Linked DNA regions of Homo sapiens. The protein of the gene in region 1 purifies or fractionates together with the protein of each later gene. This does not show direct contact. Each region holds a gene or a part of one and is shown in the gene's direction. Other genes may lie near its edges. The genes, in order: PRELID3A and AMN1.

Region 1 (3,819 bases):
TGGTCTTTTATCAGAATTGGCATTTTGAGAAGAGGGTGAACTGAGTTAAACAATGAAGCAATTCTAGAGCTCTGTTGTCCAGTGTGGCAGCCACCAGCAACATGTGGCTATTTAATTTTAAGCTATTTATGGCCAGTGCGGTGGCCCACGCCTGTAATCCCAGCACTTTGGGAGGCTGAGGCAGGCAGGTCACCTGACTTCTCTGAGGTCAGGATTTCCAGACCAGCTTGGCCAACATGGCAAAACCCCATCTCTACTAAAAATACAAAAATTAGCCGGGCATGGTGGCGGGTGCCTGTAGTCCCAGCTACTCTGGAGGCTGAGGCAGGAGAATCGCTTGAATCTGGGAGGTGGAGGTTGCAGTGAGCTGAGATCGCGCCATTGCACTCAAGAGTGAAACTCCATCTGAAAAAAAAAAATTAAACTAATTAGGATAAAATAAAATTAAAAATTCCATTCCTCAGTCACATGAGCCACATTTCAGGTGTGCATTAGCTGCATGTGTGTGTGGCTACCATATCAGACAGCATGCATAGGACATTACTGTTAGCACAGAAAATTCTGTTAGTGTGGCTCTAGAGCTCGAGTGTTTAAATTGGTTTTGACAGAAAATATAGGCTGGGCGCAGTGGCTCATGCCTGTAATCCCAGCACTTTGGGAGGCCGAGGCGGGTGGATCATGAGGTCAGGAGATCAAGACCATCCTGGCTAACATGGTGAAACCCCGTCTCTACTAAAAATACAAAAAAAAAAAAAAAAAATTAGCCAGGCATGGTGGCGGGCGCCTGTAGTCCCAGCTACTGGGGAGGCTGAGGCAGGAGAATGGTGTGAACCCAGAAGGCGGAGCTTGCAGTGAGCCGAGATCATGCCACTGCACTCCAGCCTGGGCGACAGAGCGAGACTCCATCTCAAAAAAAAAAAAAAGTAGAAAATATAGGCCGGGCCCAGTGGCTGACACCTGTAATCCCAGCACTTTGGGAGGCCAAGGTGGGAGGATCGCTTGAGCTCAGGAGTTTGAGACCAGCCCGGGCAGCATTGCAAAATCCCATCTCTACAAAAAATTTAAAAATTAGCCGGATGTGGTGGTGTGCACCTGTAGTCCCAGCTACTCAGGAGGCTGAAGTGAGAGGATCACTTGAGACCTGGAAGTTGAGGATGCAGTGAGCCTTGATCACACCACTGCACTCCAGCCTGGGCAACAGAACAAGACTCTGTCTCAAAAAATAAAAAAGAGGCCAGGTGTGGTGGCTCATGCCTGTAATCCCAACACTTTGGGAGGGTAAGGCAGACAGATCACGAGGTCAGGAGATTGAGACCATCCTGGCCAACATGCTGAAACCCTGTCTCTACTAAAATACAAAAAAAAACTTAGCCAGGCATGGTGGCACATGCCTGTAATCCCAGCTACTCCGGAGGCTGAGGCAGGGGAATCACTTCAACCTGGGAGGCAGAGGTTGCAGTGAGCCAAGATCATGCCCCTGCAGTCCAGCCTGGTAACAGAGCGAGACTCTGTCTCAAAAAAATAAGAGAGAAAAAGAAAAAGAAAATATAGGCCGGGTGGAGTGGCTCACGCCTGTAATCCCAGCACTTTGGGAGGCCAAGGCGGGCGGATCACGAGGTCAGGAGATCGAGACCATCCTGGCTAACACGGTGAAACTCCGTCTCTACTAAAAATACAAAAAATTAGCTGGGCATGGTGGCAGGTGCCTGTAGTCCCAGCTACTCGGGAGGCTGAGGCAGGAGAATGGTGTGAACCCAGGAGGCAGAGCTTTCAGTGAGCCGAGATCGCGCCACTGCACTCCAGCCTGGGCTACACAGTGAGACTCCATCTCAAAAAAAAAAAAAGTATAAATATGTACATAAGGAGTTAGTCTGTTTATAGGAAGCGGTACTGGAGGAGACAAGAACCCTGCAGTCTCCATGTAGATTCAGAGTCTGTCCCATCCAGTCCTAGGAGACAGTGCTCTGTGGGCTGCCATGGGTAGGTGAAAAGCTTTCTCTCACTTATATGGACACACAGGCCTATTTGTCCTTTTCTATGGTACAACTGCTGATAGTTTTGGCAGCTTGACTGTACCTTGAAGGCCAGAGCCCTGCTCACATGTGGAGTGGGACATGGGAAGAAGATAGATGACAGTTGCCAGAAGGAACAGCAAAACCATGGTTTCCTAGGATTTAATGTGGTCGTATCTCCTATGCCTAAAAGTTTCTTCTGTTCTGGCCCCACTAAGTGCTAATTTTGGGATGGAAGAGTATGGGCAGTTGGCTTCAGAAGAAATGCAAGAGAAATACAATCTAAACCTTTTTTTTCTTTTTAAGATCACACTCACAAATTTGGTGTCAGTTAATGAGAGGTTGGTGTACACACCTCATCCAGAGAACCCAGAAATGTGAGTCATCTCCTGTGGGATTGACACATTGAATGCCACGGGTGAGGGCAGGGCAGACCCTCCTCTCTCTCAGGGCTGGTCAGCCCCTTTTCTTCTTGCTCTTTTGCAGGACCGTGCTCACACAAGAAGCCATCATCACTGTGAAGGGGATTAGCCTTGGTAGTTATTTGGAAAGTTTAATGGCCAATACGATATCATCCAATGCAAAGAAGGTATGTATCTCAATCCTAGGAGTCCTGTGTGTGCTCTAGTTGTTAAGTGCCAGATTAAGAATATGACATTTTTAGTCTCATCAGTCTTCCTGGCTGGGCATGGTGGCTCATGTCTGTAATCCTAGCACTTTGGGAGGCCAACGCAGGTGGACCGCTTGAGGCCAGGAATTCAAGACCAGCCTGGCCAACATGCTGAAACCCCATCTACTAAAAATACAAAAATTAGCTGGGCATAGTGGCACACCTCTGTAGTCCCAGCTACTCGAGAGTCTGAGACATGAGAATTGCTTGGACCCATGAGGCGGAGGTTGCAGTGAGCTGAACCACCACTGCACTCCAGCCTGGGTAACAGAATGAGACTCTGTCTTAAAAAAAAAAATAAAAATAAAAATAAAAAATAAATAAATAAAATCCTGAGTGCTGGGGCTCTCCATTTATGCTGAGCTCATAATGCCACAGTATTTCAAAACTAGGGTAGGGAAAGGCTGACCCAGGTCTGAGGGAAGTGTGTGCATGAAAGCCAAGGGAGCCAAAGTTACTCTTCTCAGTAGAGAAAGTATGGGGTAAACCTGGAGCATAAACCCAGCCAAGGCAACTACCACTTCAAAGAGCCCAAATGTCATAAGCTCAGTTACCAAAGCAAACTAACCCACAACATCAGAAATACAAGGTGTTAACAGTGTCAGGTAGGCTATTCAGGACTTATAGTAGTTTCCTATTTAATGGGCATTAAGTGGCTTTGGCTGAACCTCTCCAGCAGTGACGCTTCCATGGAGCCTGCTGCCGTCTTCACAGCTCCTCTCTGGCAGGATTTGGCAGTAAGCTTTGTGGAGGTGAGAGGAGAAAGGATAGATCCCAGGAGGCCATCCATGGTACTCCCTTTGTGTCCAGGGCACTGGAACAGAGGAAGAGATTGTTCTAGGAGTCCAGGTTGCCCTCCCCTCCAGCAGAGTTGATGGAAAGAGCTTGAATGTTTGGTAGGAAGATGTTCCTCACATTTAAAAGATGCCACTTGCCAGAGCAGGGCCTTTGCTTTTCACCTGGGCCCGCCTCACAGGCTCATGTCTTCTCTTTGTCTGTCCCTCCTACCCCTCACTCTTCCCTTTCCTCCCTCTTTCTCTTCCCTCCTTTTTGGGGGTCAGAAATGAGTCTTCATTTTTGAGATCAGTGGGTGATTCCTAAGGCTGTACTTCCCTTTCCAATGTCCTTCCATGCTTA
Region 2 (3,819 bases), on another chromosome or scaffold:
GAGGTTGCGGTGAGCCGAGCTTGCACCATTGCACTCCAGTTTGGGCAACAAGAGCGAAACTCCGTCCCCCCAAAAAAAAAAAAAAGAAATTACTCTTTTAGTTTTAGCTTCGTTGACAGGTAGAATGGTGATTAGACTATTATGGAGGAAGAAGTGTCTTACGGGGAAAATGAATCAGAATATCCAGTAGAAATATCAAGCAGGCAGTTAGAATATAATTTTGAATCTGAAAGAAAGATCAAGGATTAGGCTGGGTGCAGTGGCTCATGCCTGTAATCCCAACACTTTGGGAGGCCGAGGCAGGTGAATCACTTGAGGTCAGGAGTTCGAGACCAGCCTAGCCAACATGGTGAAACCCTGTCTCTACCAAAAATACAAAAAAAATTAACTGGGCATGGTGGTGCACATGTGTATTCCCAGCTACTTGGGAGGCTGAGACAGGAGAATTGCTTGAACCCAGGAGGCGGAGCTTGGAGTGAGCCAAGATGGTGCTACTGCACTCCAGCCTGGGCAACAGAGTGAGACTCCATCTCTAAATAAATAAATACATAAATACACAAATAAAATGAAGAGAGATCAAGGATTGAAACTAAGATTGGGGGTATAACTTTGTAGATGATAGGAAGCCATGGTTAAGTTTAAAAGAGGGCTATAGAGAGAAAAAAAGAAAGTCAAGGACAAAATTTTATGTAACACTTACATTAGAAGCAGTCCATGTTGCCAAAACTCTTTTATTTGTTAGATCAATTCACCATATGATGATTTGGCCAAATAGTAATAGGTTGTTTCTTTTAAGTATAAAACGTAGAGCAACTATTATTGGTTGGGATATCCACCCGTCTCCCCAATTGTTTTACAGCTTTTAAAGATTATAAGTTTTAGCTGACTTCTTTTCATTTTGTCTTGAGAAATGAGACTGCCTGTGCCAACTGTGGGGCCTGAGAATCAACACCACTTATGTCAACCTAACTTTTTGCTCTAGGAAATTTTTGCAAATCAGTTTATCTAAATAAACAGCTATCAGGACAAACATTTTGATTTTTAGGACAAACATTATGTTTATCTGGACAGATTGCTCATCAAGCCTGGCTTTTTGTGTCCATCCGTTTTAAACTAAGTCACAAACTTTGCCTAATCCTTACCCATTCGCCACTGTGGGGGGAGAAGCACCCACTTAAACTGGTGGCGTTTATATCCCAGAAACTTATGTATACTCTTGCCTAACATTCCTCTATTGAAATGCTACCAAAACCCTGTCAAGATGATCTCCCTTGCTGTAGTAAATGTAATACATGATTTGACAAATTTAATCAATTTGTTTGACCAGCAGGGTTTCTGGATGGGCTTTGTGGCCATTCAATAGTCCTCCCAGAATTTTAAGAACTATTTGATTTGTTTCTGTCCCAACTCCCTGCTATTGCAGCTGGAGGGAACTGGAGCAGAAAGAGGAAACCATTTACTTTGGGAAACACATGGTACAGCCTCTGCACTGCTGAGCTCAGAGAAGAGCATACTAAAGGGCTAAGATGAAAGAGACTGAGAGAAAAAGGTGGCGGTGGGGGGCAGAGAGCCATGTTGTAGGAAAAAGGTAACATATTGAAATATACCTGAAATCTTGCATAAAGCAAAATACAGTAGTCTCTCCTTATGTGCTGTTTTGTTTCGGCAGTTTCAGGTACCTGCAGTCAACCATGGTAAAAAAATATATATATATGTTAAATGGAAAATTCTAGGAAGAAACAATTCATAAATTTTAAATTATGCACCATTTTGAGTAGCATGATGAAATCTCATGCCACCCTGCCCTGTCTGCCCAGGATGTGAATTCTGCCTTCGTTCAGCATATCCATGCTGTCCATTTAGTAGCCTTCTTGGTTATCAGAGCTATTGTCGCAGGGCTACTGCATTCACATAACCCTGATATTACTTAACAATTGCACCAGAGCACAAGAGTACTGATGCTGGCATATTGTTACATGTATTTTTTATTTTTCCACCCAATCCTTGTAGATGTTGTTATAACTGTTCTATTTTATTGTTGTTGTTGTTCATCTCTTACTGTGCCTAATTTATATATTAAACTTTACCACAGGTATGTCTGCATAGTAAATGCAGGGTGTATATATAGGATTTAGGATTCAGTACTATCCATGATTTCAGGTGTCCACAGGGAGTCTTAGAATGTTTTTCCCATGGATAAAGGGGATCTGCTATATAACAGGAGTGATTGTCAGTCACTTCAAATGCTTTACTTTTCTCTAATCCCCTACTCACAGAGGTCATGTGCAAGAGGAACAAGAGCATTTTTATAAAGTTTACACAGACTTACCTTGTTTCCTTGCTTGACTGGTGTGGGTCACTGTAGGGGTACTTGGTGAGCAGTATCCTCAACCAAGTGGTAGTTATCTTTGTTATCTAGGGCAGGAGTTGGTAACCTTTCTGTGAAGGGCCAGAGAGTAATATTTTCAGCTTTGTAGGCTACACACCCTCTGACACAGTTACTCAGCTCTGCCATTGTAGAACACAAGCAGCCACAGACAACACATAAAGAAATGGCAGCAGCCTGAGGATGATAAGGGGTGTGAAACATCTGTTGAATACCTTGACTATCGGCTCATTGTTGAGCAACCTTTGCAGTAAAAGACCTATCATTGTCAGAGTGAAAGTGGTCTGCTTTGGGAGGCCGAGGCGGGTGGATCACGAGGTCAGGAGATCGAGACCATCCTGGCTAACATGGTGAAACCCTGTCTCTACTAAAAATACAAAAACTTAGCCGGGCATAGTGGCGGGCGCCTGTAGTCTCAGCTACTCAGGAGGCTGAGGCAGGAGAATGGTGTGAACCCAGGAGGCGGAGCTTGCAGTGAGCCGAGATCGCAGTGGTCTGGAAAACCAAAAACATAACACACTTTGATCAGTGTGGCTGGAGTTGGTTGATCAGACTGAAACCATGAAACCATAACCTGAAAAAATGTCAACAACTGTAACACATTAACAATAGCCCCAGGGGTGGTGTGTGTGTGCGTGTGTGTTTGTGTGTGTGTCAGTCAAAGGCAGTGTTCCAATAAAATTTGATTTCTTTCTTGTTTTTTGAGACGAGGTCTCACTCTGTTGCCCAGGCTGGAGTGCAGTGGCCCGATCTCAGCTCACTGCAACCTCTGCCTCCCAGGTTCAAGTGATTCTCCTGCCTCAGCCTCCCAAGTAGCTGGGATTACAGGCATGCACTACCACACCTGGCTAATTTTTTGTATTTTTAGTAGAGACAGGGTCTCACCAGCTTGGCCAGCCTGGTCTTGAGCTCCTGACTTCAGGTGATCTGCTTGCCTCAGCCTCCCAAAGTTCTGGGATTACAGGTGTGAGCCACCGTGCCAGGCGTAAAACTTGATTTCTGAAAACTAGCAGCTGGCTACATTTGTCCCACAGGTCATAGTTTGCTGACCCCTGATCCAGGTTTCAGTACAACAAGAGAATCCAGGTGGCTGAACCAGAATTAAGTTTGAATTTCCTAAGTTCCCTTTTGCCAGACTGCCACCCAGAGAGTGTACCAACCAGGCTGACTTGGAGTCATTGTTTGGAGAAAGAAAGCTGCATATCATGCCCAGGAATTGTCAGAGTGGAATCCCAGAATATCAGACTAAGTCTAGCAAACCCTCCCCTTTTCATCCTGATCATTATATAGGAGGTGGCTAGGAGACTATGAACCCTTTCAGGGTGCCTTTTTTGTGACCAAACTACCTTACTAAGATGCATGGACCAGGAGAGTGTGAAGGAGGTAGAGTCAGAAATTTCTTTTAGTGGATTTTTTAAAAGTCCGTTTTACTT

The links.
Region 2: the proteins of PRELID3A (region 1) and AMN1 purify together in Homo sapiens (affinity purification with mass spectrometry; one large-scale study listed by BioGRID and IntAct). This does not show direct contact.

The regions. Positions count from the first base shown.
Region 1 is NC_000018.10:12,424,723-12,428,541, forward strand, and holds part of PRELID3A (PRELI domain containing protein 3A), read left to right. Parts: intron 1-2,318; coding exon 2,319-2,389; intron 2,390-2,498; coding exon 2,499-2,601; intron 2,602-3,819. UniProt on the Homo sapiens protein: In vitro, the TRIAP1:PRELID3A complex mediates the transfer of phosphatidic acid (PA) between liposomes and probably functions as a PA transporter across the mitochondrion intermembrane space.
Region 2 is NC_000012.12:31,722,428-31,726,246, reverse strand, and holds part of AMN1 (protein AMN1 homolog), read left to right. Parts: intron 1-1,607; exon of another isoform or gene 1,608-1,679; intron 1,680-2,329; exon of another isoform or gene 2,330-2,458; intron 2,459-3,819.